Linked DNA regions of Homo sapiens. The protein of the gene in region 3 purifies or fractionates together with the protein of the main gene of each other region. This does not show direct contact. Each region holds a gene or a part of one and is shown on either strand. Other genes may lie near its edges.

Region 1 (7,000 bases), on a different chromosome or scaffold from region 3:
GCTCAACAGCTGAGGGAGACTAGAAATGATGGGTCCATATCCTGGTGCATTGTCATACAATTCAAACAATGGTGCAGCTACCAGCTTGTAATTTTTAGGGACTGCAAACAAGGCTAAAATAAAACAGAATTCATTATTATAAGTTATTATATAATCACTGCTTCCATTTCATTTTTAAATTACCAATTTTACATTTAATAAAAAGTGTAAGAAAAAAGATAATTCTCATTAATACATTTTGGTTGTGTCTTTCAAGGTAGATTTCCTAGCCACAGATTTGAAACTAAAAGCATGGTATACATCTTTAGTTTTACAACAAACCCAAAAGTTCAAGGAACTTTGAGAAAACACAAATAGAGGTATCCTTGAAATTATTCTACAGAATTTTTAGATGGCTACCTTTGAAAACAAAATAACTTACCTTTTTCTTGAAGCTGAACCAGAAACAACTTCTTATGTTCCTTAGGCTTTGTAATATGTGCAGGAATATATGGATACTGAAATTACAAATGAATACAACTTTAATATGTATTCCATGGCTTCATTTCTTTACATGTTTACTCCCCAGTATAGTATAAACTGTTGGGAGAAGCATACTACTTTCTGTCCTCTTTACCAGGACTTATCTAACAGATACACTAGTAAATAAATGCTTTAATGCATATAAAATAACAAGCAGTAAACCAGTCAACCATTCGAGATAAAATATGTAGTCACAGGATTTATAGCTTGAGATACTTAAAACATAATGAAGTCCGATTTTAATTAGTATCTTTAATAAAAGCTTTTTTTTGTTTGTTTGTTTTTTAAGACAGAGTTTTGCTCTTGTTGCCTAGGCTGGAGTGCAATGGCGCAATCTCGGCTCACCACAACCTCTGCCTCCCAGGTTCAAGTGATTCTCCTGCCTCAGCCTCCTGAGTAGCTGAGATTACAGGCATGCGCCACCATGCCTGGCTAATTTTGTATTTTTAGTAGAGGCAGGGTTTCTCCAGGCTAGTCTTGAACTCCCGACCTCAGGTGATCCACCTGCTCTGGCCTCCCAAAGTGCTGGGATTACAGGCATCAGCCACCATGCCCAGCCTAAAAGCTGGTTTTTTAAAAATATATATATAGGCTGGGCACAGTGGCTCACGCCTGTAATCGCAGCACTTTGGGAGGCCAAGGCAGGCGGATCATGAGGTCAGGAGATCAAGACCATCCTGGCTAGCACAGTGAAATCCCGTCTCTACTAAAAATACAAAAAATTAGCCAGGCGTGGTGGCGGGCGCCTGTAGTCCCAGCTACTCGGGAGGCTGAGGCAGGAGAATGGCGTGAACCTGGGAGGCAGAGCTTGCAGTGAGCCGAGACTATGCCACTGCACTCCAGCCTGGGCAACAGAGTGAGACTCTGTCTCCCAAAAAAAAAAAAAAATTATATATATATATATATATATATATATATATATATATATATGATCAGTAAGTTAAACAGTCTAGAATCCTGTTGTAGACCTGTTTACATTAAAAATTCAAATATAAGCTGTGAGGCATTTGACAAGATGCTTCTTGCTCCTCCTTCCAGCCCCAACCTCAAACCTCCCCGTATGCCAAGGTGCATGCTTCAGGAATACCAGAAGAGCAGTCTAAGTGAAGTTTTGCCAGATGGGCAAAGCCAAATTACTCGAGGAAACAAATATAAAAATATATATATAATATATATGTATATTTTAGAGAATTTAAAGGGATGAAGAGAATTAGAGAGGGAAGTTGCTACCCGGGAAGGAAAAATTCTGACACAGAACAAAAAAAAAGTCTAAGGGTTATACAATTCTTGTATAAATCTCTCCACAATACATTCAGAAATCTACTTTTGCTGTTGGAGTTGTATCTGAGAGCTGGGGAATTTAAAATTGCTGAAAACAGATATAAGGGGAAAGTGAGATAAAAGCAGAAGCTGCCAAAAGGAGGTATTAGCATCATCCTCAATTTACACAGAATCACATGCTAAGAGAGGCTAAGTATCTTTCCCAAGATTACTCAGCCAAGTTGTGAAGCCAAGATTTAACTGTATCTATTCAACTCTTATCTAATTATAAAAGCCTATGTTATTTCCCACTGTGTTACTCATTGGCACCTAACCAGTATTCCAGTTAGAATAATTATATATCAGAGCCATCCCTAGGGTACAATGAATTGAGGCAATTGTCCCAGGCTTTGGAGGTTCCTTAAACTGTCATGAAAACCAGATACATTAACAGTCACAGAGAAAGTGGCCTGAATAGCACAAGCTAAGAGATCTGTGGATCACATACAATAAAAGTTCCCAAACCATGATCAAACAAAATGAGTAGCATTTCCCCAAATTTCTTCTGCTCAAGGCTACATGTTCCTATTTTTTTAAGCCTTTCTTCTCTGGTCTTAATGTTTAAGTTGACTGTACTTTATACAAAAAGACTGAGATAGGAAGATGATATGCTCCTTTTCCACTGACATCTAACTAATACTCTAGGCTTCCTAAATAAATCAATACACTTACCTTATGTCAAATACCACCAGGGCCAACTCTAGGCCTTACTGAATGAAGAGAACTGTCCTAGGACAGTGGTAGGGGAGATGAGTGAAGATATTCAGAAAAGTTATCTGGAAAACCACTGGGGTCACTACTAAGCATTTTCCAATTAGATCAAGGCATGTTCAGGAAGCCAAAAAAAAGTTTAGAATAACTGTACTATGTATCTTTGAACAAGTAACTTCACTGTTTCCATATGAAATTGTTCTTCCTTAAAGCCAAGATGTGTTCCTGGCAATTCTTAGGTAGTGAACACCAGCATCAGCTTCCACAGCCCCTATCTTCTTGTCCCTCTGCCATACAAGGGAGTCAGAAGCAAGAGAAAAGAACGATCTTTTGCTTGGTTGATATTTTGTGCAATGCTTGACCTGAAACATCTTGTCATGTAAAGGAGCTATAAAGTCATAGGGCTTTTTAATTTGCCTAAAGAATTCAGGATCCAACTTTAAGAAGTTCCACCATTAGCAAAAATAGGAATATTTGAGCATCAGTAACATCATCACTCATTATCATGGATTAAAATATTTCAAATTATTTAAATCCAAAAGGTCATACTGACACTTTAAAGGTCACTGAAACATGCTTTTTGTGTGTGTGTGCCCCACATTACGCTACCTCTGATTTCGGGGCAGCTATGTTTGAAAAGTATCAGAGGGTTCCCTGTTTGCTGCCACTGTCTCAACAAGCACTCAAGACTCAACATGGAAATGCAAGGGAGTTCATGCAACCCTTATCCAATGGGGTATAGGAGTCCCTACATGGTTCCTGGTCCTTAACAGAACAAATCCAGTTGCCCACAGGTGTAAAAAGATCAATAACATGCCCTGTCTTACTTCTGCTGCTTCTGGTCTCTCTCTCCCCTGTATTCTGCTGCTTCCTGGAATCACCTCTCAAACTGCCTGTACCCAAGTCTTGGTCTTACCCTCTCTTTTGAATAAAGTCAAGTCTTTAGAGGATGCTAAGGAATTAAGTCATTCTTCTGAAAAATGTTAAGTAAAGGAATAGCAGCATATTTTTTTTTTCTACACAAACCACACACTTCAGTAATACATAAGTTTCTTTTTATATGAGGATCACAACCCTTATGAATTCATAGACCAGGAAATGATCATCAATGAGCTGCTAACATTACAACAAGAAACAACCAAATATTTTTAAATTCCTGATGGAAGTACACTATACCAATTGTGATAGACTGCCTTAAGATGACCCCCAATGATTCCTGTCTCCTGGTATTCACTGCTTTGTGTAGTCCCTCCTATAGCGTACCAGGGTTGGCTTGTGTGACCAATAGCACACAGCAGAAGTGATGGTATGCCACTGCCAAGATTAGGTTATCACAGACTGAGGCTTCCTACTTGGGCACTCCTCTAGCACTCTGTCTCTCACTATCTCTTGGATCACACAGCCTTGGGTAAGCCAGCTGCCTGAGAGTTGTCCTTTTAGAGATGTTCTCATGGCAAGGAACTGAGGGAGACCTTGAGACAACAGCCAGCAACACCTGAAGCAAAGCTTTAGTCTAACAGCCCAGATGAAACTAAGAAGTTTGCTAACACACACACGTGTAAGCTCGGGATCAGATACTTTAACCCCAGTTCCACCTTATGATGCAGTCCCAGCTGACAACTTGACTGTAACTTCATGACAGAGCCTAAGCCAGAACCACCCTAAGCAACTCCCAGAGGCCTAAAGGCTGCTAAATTTTGAGGTAATTTGTTATGCAGGTATAGATTATATACCGCCTATGACAAGCCTTGTTACCCCTCCCCAAATTAACTGAGCCTGAATACAATTTCTAGATCTAACTATCAATTTGCAAGACACACAGGGGAAACAGCTACATATTCAACAACAACAGGGGAATGCAATCGAAATGGAAACATTAGCCTGTTTTCATTAACAAATAAAACACAAGGAAAAAAAAAAGGTGCCAAGTGTGTAAAAGAGACTTTAGAGACTATCCTAATCCAAACAAATTATAAAAAGAAAATAGAAATAATCAGGATACGCGAACAGTGACTATATATTTGACAATAATATGGAATTGTTTATTTTTAGTATGATAATAACAGTACTATAGTTATCTTTTTAAAGAGATCCTTATTTTTATGATTCACACTGAAATATTTACAATTGAAATGAATAGCTAGGATACACTTCAAAATAATCCAAGATGAGGGTAGGAGAATGAAGCGGTGGAATGAGGGGTTGTGATGTGCTAACTGTTAAAGGCAGACGACGGGTAGCGCAATTCATTCACTTTTACCATTCTCTCTTCTTTTGTATTTGTTCTATTTATTTATTTATTTTTTGAGAAGGAGTCTCACTGTTGTCCAGGCTGGAGTGCAATGGCACAATCTCGGTTCACTGCAACTTCTGCCTCCCAGGTTCAAGCAATTCTCCTGCCTCAGCCTCCGGAGTAGCTGGGATTACAGGCTTGTACCATCAAACCCAGCTGATTTTTACATTTTTTAGTAGAGACGAGCTTTCACCATGTTGGCCAGGCTGGTCTCAAACTCCTGACCTCAACAGGTGATCCACCCGCCTCGGCCTCCTGAAGTGCTGGGATTACAGGCATGAGCCACCTCGCCCGGCCTTGTATTTGTTTTACATTTTCCTTTAAAATAAGAAGTGCTTGGCTTAATTTTGTAATTTAAATTAAGGAGGGAAGAAAAGAAAATTTCAAGTCAAATTCTACTTTAATCTTTTTTAAAGTGGCTAGAATTAAACGAGCTTTCTGCTTCCAAAATGCCCAGCAAATGTAACTGAACACTGACCTGAGGAGGTTCAAAATTTGGTCTCCACCAGTTACCAATGCAATCGTCAATGACCCAGTCTTGCAAAACTCCATCCTGACGACCCAGTATCTGTCAAAAAGAAATAAGCCAGTAAACAACTAAATATATGTACTCACAAATCCCCTTCTTCAGTGAACAGAAAATTCTTAGCAGTGCTCCTAATTGAAACATAGGGATAATATGCCTTCCATACAGATTTTCTATGATTTGTTAATATAGATGTCACTCTGCCCAAGACATACAATATTAGTTCAAAACTGGCAAGCTAGTATCAACATAAAAATTGTGTTCAAAATTCAGCTTTCATTTTTATTAATTTGTATAGCAGAACACTAAACTTATTTTAACCAAAGTCATACTCTACATATTTTAAGTGGCCAAAAATAGTTCTACAATGTTCATGGTGAGAAACTGCAGTTCTCTGTCCTGCTTCACCCATTCCCACTGGCTGTAACTTTCAACTCTTGGTTGTTTTTCCCCTCATGTTTTCTTCTATTTTTAAAAGCATTCTTCTTGGTCTTAAATAAACGGTTTATTTTAGGATAGTTTTAGATTTACAGAAAACTTGCAAAACTTGTTCAGAGACTTCTCATATACCCCACACAGTTTCCCCGACTGTTAACATCTCACACTAGTAAAGCACATTTGTCAAACTAATCAACCAATACCAAGACAAGATTATTAACTGAAGTCCATATATTATTCAGATATCCATAGTCTTTAACCTAATGTCCTTTTTCATTTTTCAGTCCCAGGATCCCATCTAAGATACCATATTACACTTAATCTTCATTTCTTCCGAGGTTCCTCTACATTGTGACAGCTTTTCATACCTTCCTTGTGTTTGATGATCTTGATAGCTTTGAGGAATACTGGTCAAGTATTTTGTAAAACATCCCTCAATTAAATTGAAGTTATGAGCTTTTGGGAAGAAAACTACAGAGGTAAAAGGGCCATTCTCATCACGTCATATCAAAGGTACATGCTATATCAATATGGCTTATCACTAATGGGCTGAGGTACTGTTTATCACGTTTCTTCAATGTAAAGTCATATTTTTCAAAAAAAAAATTTTTTTTTGAGACGGAGTTTTGCTCATTGCCCAGGCTGGAGTGCAATGGCGCAATATCGGCTCACTGCAACCTCCACCTCCCAGGTTCAAGTGATTCTCCTGTCTCAGCCTCCGGAGTAGGTGGGATTACAGGCACATGCTACCATGCCCAGCTAATTTTTTGTCTTTTTAGTAGAGATGGGGTTTCACCCTGTTGGTCAGGCTGGTCTCGAACTCCTGACCTCAGATGATCTGCCCACCTCACTCTCCCAAAGTGCTGGGCTTACAGGCATGAGCCACTGCACCGGGCCTCAAAACTACATTTTTTAAGAGATAGGGTCTTGCTCTGTCACTCAGGCTGGAGCACAGCGACGCAATCATGGCTCACTACAACTCCTGGCCTCAAGCAATCTTCCGGCCTCAGCCCCACAAAGCACTGGGATTACAGGTGTGAGCCACCATGCCCAGCCAAAATATTCTTTTATGACAGTTTCTTGATTTTCATTTTATTTTATTTTATTTTTTTGAGACAGAGTCTCGCTCTGTTGCCCAGGCTGGAGTGCAGTGCCGCAATCTTGGCTCACTGCAACCTCCACCACCCAGG
Region 2 (3,113 bases), on a different chromosome or scaffold from region 3:
AAGGAGGCGCTGGAGGCCCTGGAGCGTGCACCTGGGAGGCCGCTGCCCAGGCGCAGGCCTGTGGCTTTCAAGGTGGAAAGCAGGGAGCAGCAGCGGTGGGTCCTGGGGGGCTCTGCCGGTGGCCCCTGCTGTGGAACGTGGCATCACACGCGGGGCCTGGCTCAGCAGGTCTGGGGCCTGCACACGGAGCCGGTGGTGGTCACTGCAGTGGTGGCAGCTGGGCTTGGGGCTGGGAGTCAGCCCTGGACCTCTTCCCCTCCAGCAGCTCCACGGCCCCTGCAGGGAAAGTACCTCCACCTCACGGACCAAGGAAGCCCCAACCCAGCCCCACGAATGGGGAAACTGAGGCGCAATGCTCTCCTGGGCTGGGTCTGAAGGCAGGAGCTGCTCCACAGCCGGTCCTCCCGGGGGGAGTGAGTGCACAGCCACACCCTCGCCCCCCAGCGGCTCCCGAGTGCTGGGCCGAGTGCAGTGCACGACACAGAGGCAGCCCCGGCTGCGCATGGGCAGAGGGCGCACACACCACGAGGGCAAGGACAGCTGCTTATCAAAATATTTTATTTTAGGAGACCCCTCAAAAAAAGACCCACCACATTAGACAGACGCCCCAACAACACCCTTGGCCTTTTTTTGGTCTTTTCTGTATTTTTTCCTTTTTAAATCAACTAAAACAATTTGATGCTTAAAATAAAAGACAGGAAATATTTCCTGATGAGACTTTAGTCGAGAATATAGATATATTTCTGATCCGGGGGCGGGTGATCAGGGGCGGGGGAGGAGAAGGATGTGCCACCAGTGGTTCGCGAGGTTCCGTTTCTCAGCTCAGGAGGGAGCCTGGCTGCCTGGACCCGGGCTAGGGACCCAGAGCTGGGGCTCCACAGGCCTGACCAGGGCCAGGGAAGAAGACGGAGGAGGAGGAAGAGAAGGCGGGGCTGGCGGCTGGGGCTTGTAATTTACATGAGAACCGTGCTGGTCACTAGCGCTGTCTGTGTCTGTCTGTCCTGCGGGACTTCTGCTCTGGGGAGGGAGGCTGGGATTCAGCGTCGTTGTCATTTCCTGTGTGGCTTCTTTTCCAGCTGAGAAACTTTTTTTTCTTTTTTACTTTTTAAAAAGAATCACAGCCAAAATAAGACATTAACTGCAAAATCCAAAATGGCTGCGCTTACCCTATGTATAAAAATGCGTCCAGTCCGGTCGGGGCACGGCCTATGCTTTCCCGGGGATCTTGGCCCGCTTGCGTGCAATAGCATCCTCCACGGCCTTCAGCTGTTTCAGCAGCTCCTCCCGCCGAGACAGCGTGCTGGCCTTCCCTGATTTGGTGCTGGCGGCGCCGGGATCCGAGGCTTTGCCGGGCACGCTCGTGACCTTGCTGGAGCTCTTGGACTGGGGTGACAGCTGGCGCTTCCTACAAGGGGGTGGGGAAGACCTTGAGCCCCCAGAAGCCACGTCTGCAGGTGGAAGGGGTGACCTCCCCGTAGGGGCGCTTCCACTGTGTCCTCAGCGGCCACCAGGACAGGCAAGGGGCTCCCTGGATGGCCAGGCTCCCACTGCCACAAGCAGGCCTGGTCCTAGCCACTGGCTCCCGGGCTTTGTGGAGCAGACTGGGAGGGTCCTGGGCTGGCCCCGCACAACCTCCTGTTATTCTTCCCACCTCTGTGCCCAGGGATCTTTTGCCCAAGGGCATGCGGAGCAGAGGGCACCCTCCAGCCTCAACCAGGGCAGGAGCGTGTGTGTGTGTGTGGGGGGGGGTGGGGGGTGGGGCTGCAATTCGCTGTCCATGCCCCTCACCCCGTCAGACCAGCAGGAGCTGTAGTGACGCCTCCAGCCTGGCCCAGTGCTAGCCCTGCTGCTGCTGGCCTCCCTGGGGAAGCGACTGGGGCTGGCCCCCTCGGTGTGCCCAGGGCACATGCTGGGTGGGACTCACCTGTCAGCCGGGGCTGCAGGGGCTTTGGAGTTCTGGCCTCTCTGCCGCTCTGGCTTCGGGGAGCCCAGTCTCCCACCTGACTTCCGGTCCCGAGAACCTGGGTGATAGGTACAGAGTGAGACCACCCTCCTGATGTACAGGGAATGGCTGTGTGGGTGGCCTCACCGATGCCAGGGACTCACTTCTAAAGCCTGAGGCTGCTTAGTTCACCACCTTCATTTTTATAAAGAAATAAAAAGGGGAGAGCCAAGTAGGAGAAGAGAGATGTGGGCACCAAGGCATCTGGAAATGAGGCTGAGGCCAAACCTGGGCCCCAGGTTCCAGCAAGCAGCCAATATCTCACGCAGAGAGACAAAACTCCTTCCTAGCTTTGAAGAAATTTATCACATGGGTCTTCAAATACGGAACAACAAGAAAGACATGGCAGTAAAGAAATACAAGCAAAGCCGAGAGACTAGGAGTGTTTCACTCTGGCAATGTTAGGAGGGAGGCGCGGCAACCGAGGGGGGGGCCACTGCCCAGCGCAGGCCCAAGGCTGGTGCGAGAACAAAGGTCCGCAGGACCCCAGAGGCCCTGGTTCCAACCCCAGGCAAGGGCAGCAAGGCTGTTCCAGACCAGCCACACAGGGCACAGGCCCTGGGCTTAGGGACAAAGGTGAGCAGCTTCCTCTTCCTGTGTCCGACAAACCCAGAGAACTGCTTGGGAAGGGGTCTGGAAGCCCCCTGCCTGTTCTCTGTGTCTGGGAGTGTCTGTGCGGGTGGCCAGGCCCCCTTGTCCTCTATCTGGTTTGAGCTCCACCCATCAAAGCCAGCCAGGACAATCTCCCTGTCTTTCCATCTGGGCCCCAGCTCTTGGGGTGTGGTCAGCATGGCTGGGGGTCCCCGAGGCCCTTTCAGGTCTGTGTGGTTCAACAGTAATATAGACACTATCTGCCTCGTCACTCAGTCCGCAGGAGCCTGGGAGGATCTCCAGAAGGCACGAGGCATGTGGGTCCAGCCGTCTTCCGTCAGCCAGACTGAAGAGATTTGCAAAAATGGAAAAACCAATGCCATTCCTGCTCATTTGTTTTGGAAAATATATTTTGCAAAAATGGCACATGTGTAAAAAAAAATACAGTTGCTCTTGTTGCCCAAGCTGCAGTGCAATGGTGCAATCTCAGCTCACTGCAACCTCTGCCTCCCAGGTTCAA
Region 3 (6,978 bases):
TGGGCTAGATTCAAACTCCTAGGCTCAAATGATCCTCCTGCCTCAGACTCCCTAGTACCTGCAGCACTTGAGCCCAGTAGTTCAAGAACAGCCTGGGCAACATGGGAAGACTCTGCCTCTACAAAAATACTTAAAAATTAGCTAGGCATGGCTCGGCACGGTAGCTCACGCCTGTAATCCCAGAACTTTGGGAGTCTGAGGTGGGCGGATCACGAGGTCAGGAGATCGGGACCATCCTGGCCAACAAGGTGAAACCCCATCTCTACTAAAAATACAAAAATTAGCTGGGCGTGGTGGTACGTGCCTGTAATCCCAGCTACTCGGGAGGCTGAGGCAGGAGAACTGCTTGAACCAGGGAGTCCAAGGTTTCAGTGAGCCAAGATCGCACCACTGCAATCTAGCCTGGAGAGAAAGTGAAACTCCGTCTCAAAAAAAAAAAAATTAGCTGGGCATGGTGTCATATGCCTGTGGTCCCAGCTACTCCGGAGGCTGGAGTAGGAGGATCACTTGAGGCTGAGGCTACAATGAGCCATGATAATGTTACTGTACTCCAGTCTGGGTGACAAGAGCTCGTGTTTCAAAAATAAATAAAATGAACAAAAAGAATTAATGTAGCTATAAAAATCAGAATGGGTCCAAAAGACCAACTAGTCTTAAAACATTCCCTCTGGTCTCTGCTTTGCCAAATCAGGTTTGAGAAATTAGTTCTCAATAAATTAGACATGTCACATCAAAAAATGTATCTTTCTGGGACAGTGGAAAAAAACAAAAATAATTTCATACTTGACAAGCAATTTAAAAAGAAGCCACATTGTATAGTGGGAGGCCAGACAGTACAATAGTTAGCAGCAGGGCTTTAGAACCAGACTGCCTGAGTTTAAATGGGTGTGCCACTGAGTGTGACCTTGAGCAAGTTACTTAATTTCTCTGTGTTTCAGTTTCATCATCTCTAAAATAAGGAAAATAAACGTATCTACCTCCATAGGGTTGTTAAAAGAATTAAAGCCTTCAGGGAGCTTAAAAGCTGCTTCTTATATTTATTCTTTCTAAATTTTCTGTTTTGAATAGATTCTATATAACTGTAAACTACTCAGTGTTCTCTAAAGAACTGTTGTAGACACTATATTCAGGGACTCACTATGAGCACCAGGCATAGTTTGCTTTCATACCAAATGGTTATCTTCTTTGTTAAATACTTTCAAACTACTGAAAGTGAGACATATACAGACCAAATATTCCATTTACACCAAGTGCTCTGTGGGGAAGGGAAGGGAAATTAAAGATTATCTCTGTTACTCATACAGCAGAGGCCTAAATATGTATTTTTGAAATTATTAAGTCTAATATTATTTGAATACAGTATGTGAATAAACTATGGCTGACCCACTCCTGGAAATGAATCTGAAACATCCCTAAAATCAAATAAATGGACATAATATTACAGAACTTTTCAGATTAGTAGAAAATGTAACCACATAGCATGAGATCTGCACGGTACTGGCATAAACACTGTAATTGTGCCACACAATGAACTTGGTGAGAAACAGTAAGAGGTTAAAGCTAATTTAAAACTTCAGAATCCATTTGTTCTCTGCTAAGTCAAATTGTAAAAATAATACAGCAGTTTTGAAAAGCCCTTAATTAAAAATTCCGTTTCTCTGCCTAGCTGAGTAATGCAGATGATTGAGGAGCCCAAAACTGGATGCACAGCAATTAAGTGTCAGGTTGTCTGGTGGCAAAGATTTCTTCTATCGCTCAGTCACAAGTTGCTGGGAGACTATACCTCTTTCTAAGATGGCTGGAAACAGATCAGACAGTGCAGATGCAAAAAAAAACAAAAAACAAAACAAAAAAAAAAAACGGTCGCTATAGGAACATTGCCGTAAAATCCATTCTCTCTGTTAAGGTTCTTGTTTGAGTTTTCCTAACATAGACATGAACAGCAAAATACTGCTTTAAGTTAACCAATGGTTAACCTTTGCAGCATACACTCGTATTTTTTTTTTTTTCATTTTTCATTTGGCCGCATGGATTCTTAATGTTAGCTTAATTATAGACATAAAGTGGTTTGGCAGTAGCTAGCAATTCCCACTACTCCTTCCACTCGTCCTCCTAAAGAAGGGTTATAAACTCAGGCAAAAAAAAAAAAAAAAAAAAAATGCCAGGCCTCAAAACCAAAGACTCTATCTTACTTTGCCTCAAGTTTGCAAGTTGGTAAAAAAGCTGCCGGTAGGCACTCAAAACAAAACAAAACAATACTGGGTGACTGCTGGACTAAAGAGTACAAGGTGACGAGATCAAGTATCCCGCTAGCCACAGACTAGCTCTGGGATGGCCAGAGAGTGTGACCCCAGCACCTCCGCTCTCTGCTTTCAGGTCCTAAACTGACACCAGTAAAAGGACGACTGGGGGTACCGCATGAGGAAGAAAAGACTTAGGGCTTGGCCCGCCTGCTGCCACTGACCCTCGTGTCCCCAACACAGATGCCGCTAAGAGCTGCGGCCAGGGAGCTCAGATGGGTCCCCAAAAGAGGCATAGGAAAGCGCGACCTCACTGCCGCGGCAGCCGCCACGCGCACCGGACCTGTAGAGGCCGCTCGCGCCTACGCCTCCCGGGGCAACGACGCGCGGCAGGCCGCGGCCGCCTTCACCCCAGCAGCCACGGCCTCTGGGAGAAGGAAGCTCGAAGGCCGCCTGCTCCCCATGCCTCCCACCCCACAACGAATCGCGCCGGAAAAAGCAAAGTTTGACTCTCGCCGTTAGGCCCGAACTTTCCCGCCACCCCGTGCAGCTCCCACTCGGCAGTCCCCGGGCTCCAGCTTCTGGCCCACTCACAGAGACTACTTACTCTGGCTGCTCCCGTAGCGACTGGGTCTCCGCGGCGGCCATCTTGAACTTCCTGACTCCTCGGCGGCGGTGGCGGCGGCTCCCGGACGGTGGAGGGTAGGGGAAGTGGAGGAAGAAGGAAAAGAGCTGCCGCGCATGTGCCGACCGTGTAGGGAAGAGCTGGGTTCTGAGTCCGCGCTAAGAATCCGGATATAAAACCCCACGTCCCGGGACTAGCGCAGGGCGTAGTGTCGCAGCTTCCGGGAGCATGGTGGGCGGTGCTGCTAAGGATTGAGGTCGAGTGTCAAGCTTGAGCTCTTCAGTCAATGCTAGAAATGGACGTTTAGTTATTGAATCCCGCTAACGAGGGGAGCCAACAAGAGAGGGATGTCGGCATCGGGTGTGCGGTTCCAAGAACTGATTGGCTGTGGAGATTAGAAGTTAGGTGAAAATTCTCTTAAACTCGGGCAAACGAATTGATGATTTTTCCCCTGGTCGGTGTTAGAGACACAGTAAATGCTTAACCATCTCGCTAGACAGCTCAACTGAAGTGGCATTAACTTCCCGGGAAAGTGTGTAGAAAGGCATTTTTAAATACTGTAAACTCGAACGTAAATATCTTTTAATGTGGAACTGTTACTACATTTAACACTGAACATCTTTTCAACTTTTACATAGTTCAAGGGTGACACGATTCAGTTCGTTATTTCCGTAATTGGAACGTGTAATGTTTTTTGGCCCAAGTTGCGTTATGTGATTTTGTTTTCTTCTATAACGACTCTACAGTAATGGGGTAGAATGGAATATTGTGGGGAAAACATTTACTGGCTCTTGGAGAACTCTCAAAACCAATTAGGTTCTTTAATTCCTCTTTAAAAAAATATTTCTCGCCTGGCGCTGTGGCTCACCCCTGTAATCCCAGCACCTTGGGAGGCCGAGGCGGGCGGATCACCTGAGGCCAGGATTTGGAGACCAGCCTGGCCAACATGGTGAAACCCCGTCTCTATTAAAAATACAAAAAATTAGCTGGGCGTGGTGGCGCTCGCCTATAATCCCAGCTACTCCGGAGGCTGAGGCAGGAGAATCGCTTGAACCCGAGAGGCGGAGTTTGCACTGAGATCACGCCACTGCACTCCAGCCTGGGCGACAGAGCAAGATTCCATCTCAAAAAAAAAAAAAAAATTATCCATACTTTGGAACCTGGAAGCAGCGTGACGATCACTTTCATTCTTGTAATCATCTGAGTTTGCCTTTGTCCTAGAAAATTGAGTTCGGAATCTCCAGACTCCATACATATCTCTTGATTTCCAGGGGAGAAGGGTTTTAAATGTTCTTACAAAATGTCTCTTGTTGCCTGAATTCCAAACGTTTTGAAATGTTAGGGCCGGGCGCGGTGGCTCACGCCTGCAATCCTCTAGCACTTTGGGAGGCCGAGGCGGGCGGATTGCCTGAACTCAAGAGTTCGAGTCCAGCCTGGCCAACATAGCGAAACTCCGTCTCTGCTAAAAATACAAAAAATTAGCCGGCGTGGTGGCGCCTGTAGTCTCAGCTACTCGGGAGGCTGAGGCAAGAGAATCGCTTGAACCCGGGAGGCCGAGATCGCGCCATTGCACTCCAGCCTGGGCAACAAAAGCAAAAACGCCGTCTCAAATAAATAAATGAAATAAACTTAGTAAACTATTTTTAAATAATGTTAAAATTAACGGTGTACGTAGTAGAACTGTGAGAGATCTCATCTTGGAAATAGAGTGATATACTTGAAGGCAAGAGATTGGGTCAGGTACTATTAACACGTTTTACACATGAACAAACCGACACTAAGAGGTAAGGTAATTTGCTTATGATTGAGTTCCCAAGTACAAAGCTGATTTTTGAACTAAAATCTGACTCGAAAATCTGCTCTTTTCTTATCAGGCTGCTTCCTACAAAAATATAACCTCGCTTAGCATCTGCTTGTTAAGCATCCACCCTCACAGCTCTTTGGCATTCAAATGTTTGTTGAGTAGGGGTAATAGAGCACTACGTTCGAATCAGAAAATGCCTTATTTTTCCTTGCTTGCAAGAGCCTATTATAAATAAATGCCTTGTTTTCGCTGTGTCTCTTTCTTGTTGTCGAGAGCTCAGGCTGGTCTTAATTTCTGCAACCATAGTATTATCTCCCAGGTCTCCTTCTGCCCTGTGTATTTTGCAGTTATGCTTTATGTGGAGATGAAGCATCCTAAGTGTGGAGAACGATATATGGGGCCCGAACAATAGGTGCTGAAGCCAGATTGTGTGACTAAAGTTGGTATTTGAACAAACCAAGTGTTTATTTTTTTAAAGAGCATGGTAAAAACTAAGTTTCAAAAATCGATGCTGGCAAAAATTTCCTTGAAAAAATTCTCACCAAGTTCACTTGCACGGTACTACCTGGGGAATGAAACACATTTGTCAAGGACACGCCCAAAACTATGTTGCTGTTGTAATTTTCAAAGACTGGGAACTGCGGCAGGGGGAGTTACAATTAAAGCAAACATCGGCGTATCAGTTTATTCATTCAGCAAACGTTTATGAAGCAACAAACGTATGCCCAATATTTCAGTCTTGCTGCTCTTCCTCCCCAAATTCAGGAACCTTTGCAACGGAAAGCGGCCTCGGGCAGGCGCCTTTTGAGCAGAGGAGTAAAACCGGTAAGTCAGCAGTGGAACCCGCCTCCCCGGAAATCCTTGGAGGGGGCGGGGCCCTGGGGAGCGCGCTCTTCCCAGCGGCAGCTGGGGAGGCGCATGCGTACTTGCGTCATCGTTGGGTAGCAGCGGGGAGGCGTGGGAGGATCTGAGGCCTGCGGTGGGCCTTGGTCCCTTCTCTCCCCGCCCCGAAGCCGCCTGCTCAACCTGAGGGCCACCGGCCTCTATCCGTCGGTGCCGATGCTCCTTGCTTCCCAGCCAGAGCGTCTCATCTCTGGGCCCGGAGCCCCAGGCTCGTTCTCCTCAGCCCCTGCCGGCGGCGGCGCTCTTGCAGCCATTCCTGTGAGGTCGTTTTTCGGAGCAGCCGGGCCGGCCGAGGAGTAAGTAGGCGCCAGAGTTCTAGCTCGGGCATCTGCCTCGGGGCCCTGTCGCCGCCGCGCCCCGGATCCTGCGTTGGTCCTGTCCGATAAAGCGGAGGTCGGCCCTGCTTGCTGACGAGACCGTAAAAACCACGGCGCTTGGCGCCCTGCCGCCGCCACACCACACCAAAGTGTACCTGCCCGAGGCTGGCTTCGGGCGCGAGCTTGCATTTGTGACTTTCTCTTACCGTCTTTGTTTGCTTCGTTTTAAGTATTACTTCCAGATAAGGGACACATTCTCGAAATACTTTGAAAACAGTTTTGAATTTTGTTCCTCCCGTTGAAACGGATTAAATTTGGACCTTTCAAGCTACACTGTGCAATCATCAATCTCAATAAGCTCTTAATAGGCTCATTCTTCCGTAGGCTACAAACAAAATAAAGATCATAACATCCTGCGGAGGAAGCCATTGGTCCATGTAGAGTCGCCAGATGTCAATTAAGAGTAGATCGCTTTTCAGAGAATACTTAACGACTCTGGTTTAGACCTAGACTTGGAACTTTGAGGTGTTTGGAACACTGGGCAGAATTTTCCTTTGTTACAAAACAAAGTTTATGAGAACGTAATTTGTTTTTGTTGTTTTTGTTGTTAGTATTGAAGCAATTTTGGTGCAAACCAAAGGATAACAAAGCAAAACAATGAAAATCACCCAGAGTTCCATTACCCACACTGAACCAACTTGAATATATTGGTTTATTTTGGCTTTTTTCCATATGAAATGTTAAATTTTCTTGTACTCACGTGTAGAATATGATAGTTTGCTCTTTCATGTAACATGTCTCCCAATTTTTACATACATAATTCTAGTTTCAGTAAGCATTTTTATAACTACACTCTTTTTCCTTTGTTATTGTATGTCTAGGTTATTTCAACTTTGCACTGTTGCTTGTAACTACTATGTGATGAGGCAGTAGCTAGATTAGTATTTAGAACGTGAGCATTCAAGTCAGGCAGACCTGGGCTTCACAACTTACTGTGCAATTTCAAAGAGTTTAACTTTTTTGAGCCTCATTTTACACAGTAACATGGGGATAATGGTTCTGATTGCATAGAATTATTATGAGAGTAAG
Region 4 (7,051 bases), on a different chromosome or scaffold from region 3:
GGCTGCAGTGAGCCGAGATCACGCCACTGCCCTCCAGCCTGGGTGACAGAGCAAGACCCCGTCTCAAAAAAAAATAAATAAAATTTTTATTAAAAAAGAAAGAATAGAAAGCAGGGTCTCTGACAAATATCTGTACACCCGTATTCACAGCAGCATTATTCACAATAGTCAAAAGGTGAAAGTGGTCCAAGTGTCCGTCAGCGAATAAACAGGTCAGCGAATGCGGTCTACATAGATGAGCGAATGCGGTCCACACACACCAAAGAGTCAAGTCTCATCCTGCCTTAAACTGAGAACATGCTGGCCGGGGCGCCGGGGCTCATGCCTGTAATCCCAGCACTTTGGGAGGCCGAGCCACGTGGATCACTGGAGGTCAGGAGTTCGAGACCAGCCTGGCCAACATGGTGAAATCCCATCTCTAACTAAAAATACAAAAAAATCACACTTCTAATCCCAGCATCCTGGGAGGCTGAGGCGAGTGGATCACGAGGTCAGGAGATCAAGACCATCCTGGCCAACATGATGAAACCCCGTCTCTACTAAAAATACAAAAATTAGCCAGACATGGTGGCACACGCCTATAGTTCCAGCTACTCGGGAGGCTGAGGCAGGAGAATCACCTGAACCCAGGAGGTGGAGGTTGCAGTGAGCCGAGATCACACCACTGCACTCCAGCTCGGGTGACGGTGCCAGGCTCCGTCTCAAAAAAAAAAAAAAAAATTAGCTGGGCTTGGTGGTGCACACCTGTAGTCCCAGCTACTTGGGAGGCTCAGGTGGGAGAATCATTTGAACCCGAGAGGCGGAGGCTGCAGTGAGCCAAGACCATGCCATTGAACTCCAGCCTGGGTGACAGAGAGAGACTCTGTCTCAAAAAAAAAAAAAAAAAAAAGAACATGCTGACGCATGCTGCACCATGAGCTAATTGAAATAAGCCTGTCACAGTAAGGTAAATACTGTATGATTCCAGTCATATAAGATCCAGAGAGTAGTGACATTTATAGAAACAGAGAGAACGGTGGATGCCAGGGGCTGGGGAGAAAGCGCACGGGGACTCAATGTTTAACAGGTACGGAGTTTCAATTTGGGAAGATGAAAACAGTTCTGGAGATGAATGGTGATGAGGTTGTATAACAACATGAACATAATTATGTCAGTGAAGGTATGTACAGTCAAGAATGATTAAAATGGTAAATTCTGTGTTACATATATTTTACCACAAAAAAATTACTGTGACAGTTTTATTTATTTATTGAGACAGTCTCACTCCGTAACCCAGGCTGGTGTGCAGAGGCGCGATCATAGCTCATGGCAGCCTCAAACTCCCTAGCTCAAGCAATCCTTCCACCTCAGCCTCTCGAACAGCTGGGACTACAGGCACCACCAGGCCCAGCTATTTCTTTTAGTTTTTGTAGAGACAGAGTCTCACCATCACCATGTTGCCCAGGCTGGTCTTGAACTCCTGACCTCAAGCAATCCTCCTACCTTGGTCTCTCAAAGTGCTAGGATTACAGGCATGAGTGCCTGGCCCAAAAAGTTTTACAATTTCTATGTAAACAAATTTCAGGCTGGGCATGGTAGTTCACACCTGTAATCCCAGCACTTTGTGAGGCCAGCGCGGACAGATCACTTGTGCCCAGGAGCTCCAGCCCAGGTTGGGCAACCTAGTGACACCCCATCTCAACAAAAAATACAAAAATTAGTTGGGTATGGTGGCACATGCCTGTAATCTCAGCTACTTGGCAGGCTGAGGTGGAAGGATCGCCTTAGCCCAGGGAGGTCAAGGCTGTATGTAGCCAGCCATGATTGTGCCACTTTTTGTTTTTGTTTTTGTTTTTTATTTTGAGACAGTCTCACTCTGTTGCCCAGGCCGGAGTGCACTGGTGCAATCTCGGCTCACTGCAACCTCCAACGCCCGGGTTCAAGCAATTCTCCTGCCTTAGCCTCCCAAGTAGCTGGGATTACAGGCGCCCGCCACCACACCTGGCCAATTTCTGTATTTTTAGTAGAGACGGGGTTTCACCATGTTGGCCAGGCCAAAAGTAGTATGTTCCTTCGTGGTATCTGATATGCATATCAGAAAGAGTTCTGTACTTCACTGGTGTCTAGAGCACCTAGTCTCCAGATCAAAGTACACGTTCCATGCAGGGCCACAAGACAATTTACTGAGAGGCAGGAAAAAAACACACTTTTTAAAAAATTATTATTTTATATTTTAAAAAAAGGCCAAGTGCAGTGGCTCACACCTGTAATCCCCGCATTTTGGGAGGCCAAGGCAGACAGATCACCTGAGGTCAGGAGTTCAAGACCAGCCTGGCCAACATGGTAAAACCCCGTCTCTACAAAAAATACAAAAATTAGCCGGGTGTGGTGGTGGGCACCTGTAATCCCAGCTACTCAGGAGGCTGAGGTAGGAGAATCACTTGAACCCAGGAGGTGGAGGTTGCAGTGAGCCAAGATCACACCATTGCACTCCAGCCTCTGAGTGACACAGCAAGACTCTGGGTCAAAATTTTAAAAATCTGCGGAATTATTCAGGCAAAAATCAAGCCAAAAAAAAAAAAAGGAGAAGGAGAAGAAGGAGGAGGAGGAGAAGGAGGAGAAGAAAAAGGAGAAGAAGAAGAAGGAGAAAAAGAAAACAAAACAAAATTAAACTGTCTAAACCTGTCCACAGGAAAATGCTGTGTGACAAACTCACCTGGCTCAGCCTCATGTCCATCAGAGTGTTCCTCGCTTGGCCAATCTTCCTCATGTCCAGCTCACCTGTGCCAGGTGTCATCAGTCCTGGCGTCATTCCACCTGGGTATGGAGTGTTTAGTCCACCTGGATAGGGTGTGTTAAGACCTCCAAATTGCTGGAGGGGAAGAGAGGAAAGGCAAGAATAAAACAACGGTTTGCACTGCATGCCCAAGAAATTTACTCTCTGAAATACTTCCCCAGTGGCCTGACATATGCACAGCTGTGCAGACAGACTCGGCCACAGCATAGCCATGACCTGCAGAAGCATTGAATCCAACACCACCCACCATTCCTGCCACTGATCTAACAGGACTAAATGGGCCACATGTGCCCTTTTTTGGAAGCTCACAGTTTGTCGGGGATCCACTGAGGTATGGTTCTCTCCGGTCTGTAAATGTTTGGCAAAGAAACTGTCAGGAACAGGGGTCAGCTTCTCATAGCGTGGGTTCCGCTGACGTTTATTTCTGGCATCGCCAACCTCGGGGATGCTCAGCCACTCTTCTTCTGTGACTTCTGCCAACTTCCTCTGGAAATATCCAGCCCCCAAAAACATTAATTCTCTGACAGAATTTCATGTGCCCAGGTAGGACCATGCCCTCTCTCACCCCTAGCCTCCAGATCACCAAGCTTTAGAAGGGATTTGGATGCAGCAACTGTTTTTTACTTTTGTTTTGAGATGGGTCTCATTCTGTTGCCCAGGCTGGATTCAGTGGCACAATCACAGCTCACTGCAGCCTCAACCTCCCAGGCTCAAGTGATCCTCCCACTTCAGCTTCTCAAGTTGCTGGGACCACAAGCGTGGGCCACCATGCCTGGCTAAGTTTTTATTTTTTGTAAAGACAGGTTCTCCCCAAGGCTGGTCTCAAACTCCTGGGCTCAAGTGATCCTCCCACCTCAGCCTCCCAAAGTGCTGAGATTACAGATGTGAGCCACTGTACCCAGCCCCAAAAATAGTTTTCTACTTCACTTAGAAAAATCAATTTAGGCCGGGCACGGTGGCTCATGCCTGTTAATCCCAGCACTTTGGGAGGCCAAAGCGGGCAGATCACCTGAGGTCGGGAGTTCGAGACCAGCCTGACCAACATGGAGAAACCCCATCTCTACTAAAAATACAAAATTAGCCGGGCATGGTGGCACATGCCTGTAATCCCAGCTACTAGGGAGGCTGAGGCAGGAGAATCGTTTGAACCTGGGAGGCGGAGGTTGCGGTGAGCTGAGATCGCGTCATTGCACTCCAGCCTGGGCAACAAGAGCCAAACTCCGTCTCAAAAAAAAAAAAAAAAGAAAAAGAAAAGAAAAATCAATTTATTGGATCTGTTCAACTTCACTAAAATGTAAATTATTCTCTCAAAGCCCAGGGGACACAGTTTAGAAAATCTTACGTATAAATGGGGCCAGACGTGGTGGCTCACGCCTGTAATCCCAGCCCTTTGGGAGGCTGAGGTGGGCAGATCACTAGAGTTCAGGAGTTTGAGACCAGCCTGGTACACATGGCGAAATCCTGTCTTTACTAAAAATACAAAAATTAGCTGGGTATGGTGGCAGGCACCTGTAATCCCAGCTACTTAGGAGGCTGAGGCACAAGAATTGCTTGAACCTAGGAGGTGAAGGTTGCAGTGAGCTGAGACCACGCCACTGCACTCCAGCCAGGGCAACAGAGCCAGACTGCCTCCAAAAAAAAAAAGAAAAAAGAAAAAAGAAAATCTTAGGTATAAATGGAGTCAAAATTACAAAGAAAATAAGTTCATTTGTCCTACCTTTTACAGTAGGGGAAGGGTTTTTTTTTACACACATATAATTAAACATACTGAAGCAAACACTTTCTTCTTCTAAGCAATGACCCCCTAAATTAAAAACGTAAAGTCTCATAAATTCCACGTAAGAGCAGTCTGAGTCTCTGCGGGTTAGGGTGAGAGCGTTAGAAACCGCACACCATTCACCGCTTCATCGGCTCACCTTGAGGTCTGAGAACTGCTGTTGGATTTTGGGGCGTTCCATACGATATTTCTCTATTTCTTCTTTCTCCCTTTGCTCCCTAGGAAATAAAACATGCACACATCAGAAACACTGCATGTCTGTTCTGAAGCAAATTTATTATCCATCTCAATTAAATCACCAAAAAGAACAATTCCATACTCTTAGTAGCTAAATCAAATATATATATATATATATACATATACACACACACACACACACACACACACACACACACACATTTTTTTTTTTGAGATGGAGTCTTGCTCTGTCACCCAGGCTAAAGTGCAGTGGCGCAATCTCAGCTCACTGCAACCTCCACCTCCTGGGTTTAAGTGATTTTCCTGCCTCAGCCTCCCAAGTAGCTGGGATTACAGGTGCTCGCCACCACTCCCAGCTAATTTTTGTGTTTTTAGTAGAGACGGGGTTTCACCATCCTGGCCAGGCTGTTCTCGAACTCCTGACCTTGTGATCTACCCACCTTGGCCTCCCAAAGTGCTGGGATTACAGGTGTGAGCCACCGCACCCAGCCCAAATCAAATATATTTTAAGGTAACTATGAATACATTCTTAGCTGGGCATGGTAGCACACACCTGTAATCACAGCTACTTGGGAGGCTGAGGCAGAATCATTTGAACCCAGGAGGCAGAGGGTGCAGTGAGCCAAGATCGCACCACTGCACTCCAGCCTGGGCAACACAGAGAGACTCTGCCTCTAAATAAATAAATATAAATACATTCGTAAGTCTACTAATTCAATTATCCACCAAATAAAAACATGTAGAAATTCATTAAAATAAAAAAAAAAGATCTTACTTTGATCTAAATACCTCCATTTGGACATGTGTATATTTACTGCTTGAAAATTCACAAAATCCCAAAGGTAGGACCATCCCATAAACACCTAAGAAGGCCAGGCGTGGTGGCTTACACCTGTAATCCCAACGCTTTGGGAGGCCGAGGTGGGCAGATCACCTGAGGTCAGGAGTTCAAGCCTGGCCAATGTGGTAAAACCCCATCTATACTAAAAATATGAAAATTAGCCAGGCGTGGTGGCGCATGCCTGTTATCCCAGCTACTCAGGAGGCTGAGGTAGGAGAATTGCTTGAACCTGGGAGGTGGAAGTTGCAGGGAGCCAAGATCATGCCATTGCACTCCAGCCTGGGTGACAAGAGTGAAACTTCGTCTCAAAAAAATAAAAATAAAAATAAAAATTAGCTGGGCATGGTGGTGGGCACCTGTAATCCCCAGCTACCTGGGAGACTGAGGCAGGAGAATCATCTGAATCCAGGAAGTGGAGGTTGCAGTGAGCCAATCTAGCCTGGGCGACAGAGCGAGACCTTGTCGCAAAACAAAACAAAACAAAACAAAACAAAAAAACACCTACAAGGAAAAACAGTAACTATCCTAGTTACCACCAAACACTCCAAACACTCTACTGAACTCATCCCACCTTTCCTTCCTTGCTTCCTTCTCTTCCAAGTAAATAGTTCACCTCTAACCAACTCAGCTCAGCTGCACAGCTCTATGTGCCAGAACATAACCCATGTAATTGCACTTCGGTGTTGAGACTACATGTGAGGATATGGTATTCACAGTACTGTTCTTCCTACTTGTTTGTATTACGACAGTTTTCAGAATAAAAAGTTTTAATAAGTACACTACTTTTTTTTTTTTCTTTGAGACAGTCTCACTCTGTCACCAGGCTGGAATGCAGTGGTGCGATCTCAGCTCACTGCAACCTCCGCCTCCTGGGTTTAAGTGATTCTCGTGCCTCAGCCTCCTGAGTAGCTGGGATTACAGGCATGCACCACCACACCCAGCTAATTTTTGTATTGTTAGTAGAGACGGGGTTTCACCATGTTGGCCAGGATGGTCTCGATCTCCTGACCTCATGATCTGCCCGCCTCGGCCTCCCAAAGTGCTGGGATTATAGGTGTGAGCCACCGTGCTCGGCCAAGTACACTACTTTTTAAAAACATTTAATTTAATGGCTTTCTTCATGGGTCCGTGTCACCTGCTGTTTTTTGTTTTGTTTTTGTTTTAGAGACACGGCCTTGGTCTGTTGCCCAGGCTGGAGCACAGTGGCATAAGCATAGCTCACTGTAGCCTCTAATTCCTAGGCTCAAGCGATGCTCCTGCCTCAGCCTTGGGAATGTAGCTGGAACTACGGGCATGTGCAACTGGCTAATTTTAATTTTGTTTTTGTAGAGACAGGGTTTCACCATGTTGCCCAGGCTGGTCTCGAACTCCTAGACTCAAGTGGTCCTCCTGCCTTGGCCTCCCAAGGTACTAGGATTACACATGTAAGCCACTGCACCCAGCCTGATGTTTTTTAAAA

What was found.
Region 1: the proteins of PRP4K (region 3) and NUDT21 purify together in Homo sapiens (affinity purification with mass spectrometry; 2 studies listed by BioGRID and IntAct, with this or other methods). This does not show direct contact.
Region 2: the proteins of PRP4K (region 3) and ZC3H18 purify together in Homo sapiens (co-immunoprecipitation; 5 studies listed by BioGRID and IntAct, with this or other methods). This does not show direct contact.
Region 4: the proteins of PRP4K (region 3) and PRPF6 purify together in Homo sapiens (affinity purification with mass spectrometry; 3 studies listed by BioGRID and IntAct, with this or other methods). This does not show direct contact.

Annotation. Positions count from the first base shown.
Region 1 is NC_000016.10:56,434,333-56,441,332, forward strand, and holds part of NUDT21 (cleavage and polyadenylation specificity factor subunit 5), read right to left. Parts: intron 5,415-7,000; coding exon 5,325-5,414; intron 498-5,324; coding exon 422-497; intron 114-421; coding exon 1-113. UniProt on the Homo sapiens protein: Component of the cleavage factor Im (CFIm) complex that functions as an activator of the pre-mRNA 3'-end cleavage and polyadenylation processing required for the maturation of pre-mRNA into functional mRNAs.
Region 2 is NC_000016.10:88,629,393-88,632,505, reverse strand, and holds the end of ZC3H18 (zinc finger CCCH domain-containing protein 18), read right to left. Parts: intron 2,022-3,113; coding exon 1,925-2,021; intron 1,406-1,924; coding exon 1,207-1,405; 3' UTR 542-1,206; downstream 1-541.
Region 3 is NC_000006.12:4,017,336-4,024,313, reverse strand, and holds the start of PRP4K (serine/threonine-protein kinase PRP4 homolog), read right to left. Parts: upstream 3,015-6,978; 5' UTR 2,889-3,014; coding exon 2,848-2,888; intron 1-2,847. UniProt on the Homo sapiens protein: Serine/threonine kinase involved in spliceosomal assembly as well as mitosis and signaling regulation. Connects chromatin mediated regulation of transcription and pre-mRNA splicing.
Region 4 is NC_000020.11:63,991,127-63,998,177, reverse strand, and holds part of PRPF6 (pre-mRNA-processing factor 6), read right to left. Parts: intron 4,772-7,051; coding exon 4,693-4,771; intron 3,263-4,692; coding exon 3,086-3,262; intron 2,852-3,085; coding exon 2,696-2,851; intron 1-2,695. UniProt on the Homo sapiens protein: Involved in pre-mRNA splicing as component of the U4/U6-U5 tri-snRNP complex, one of the building blocks of the spliceosome.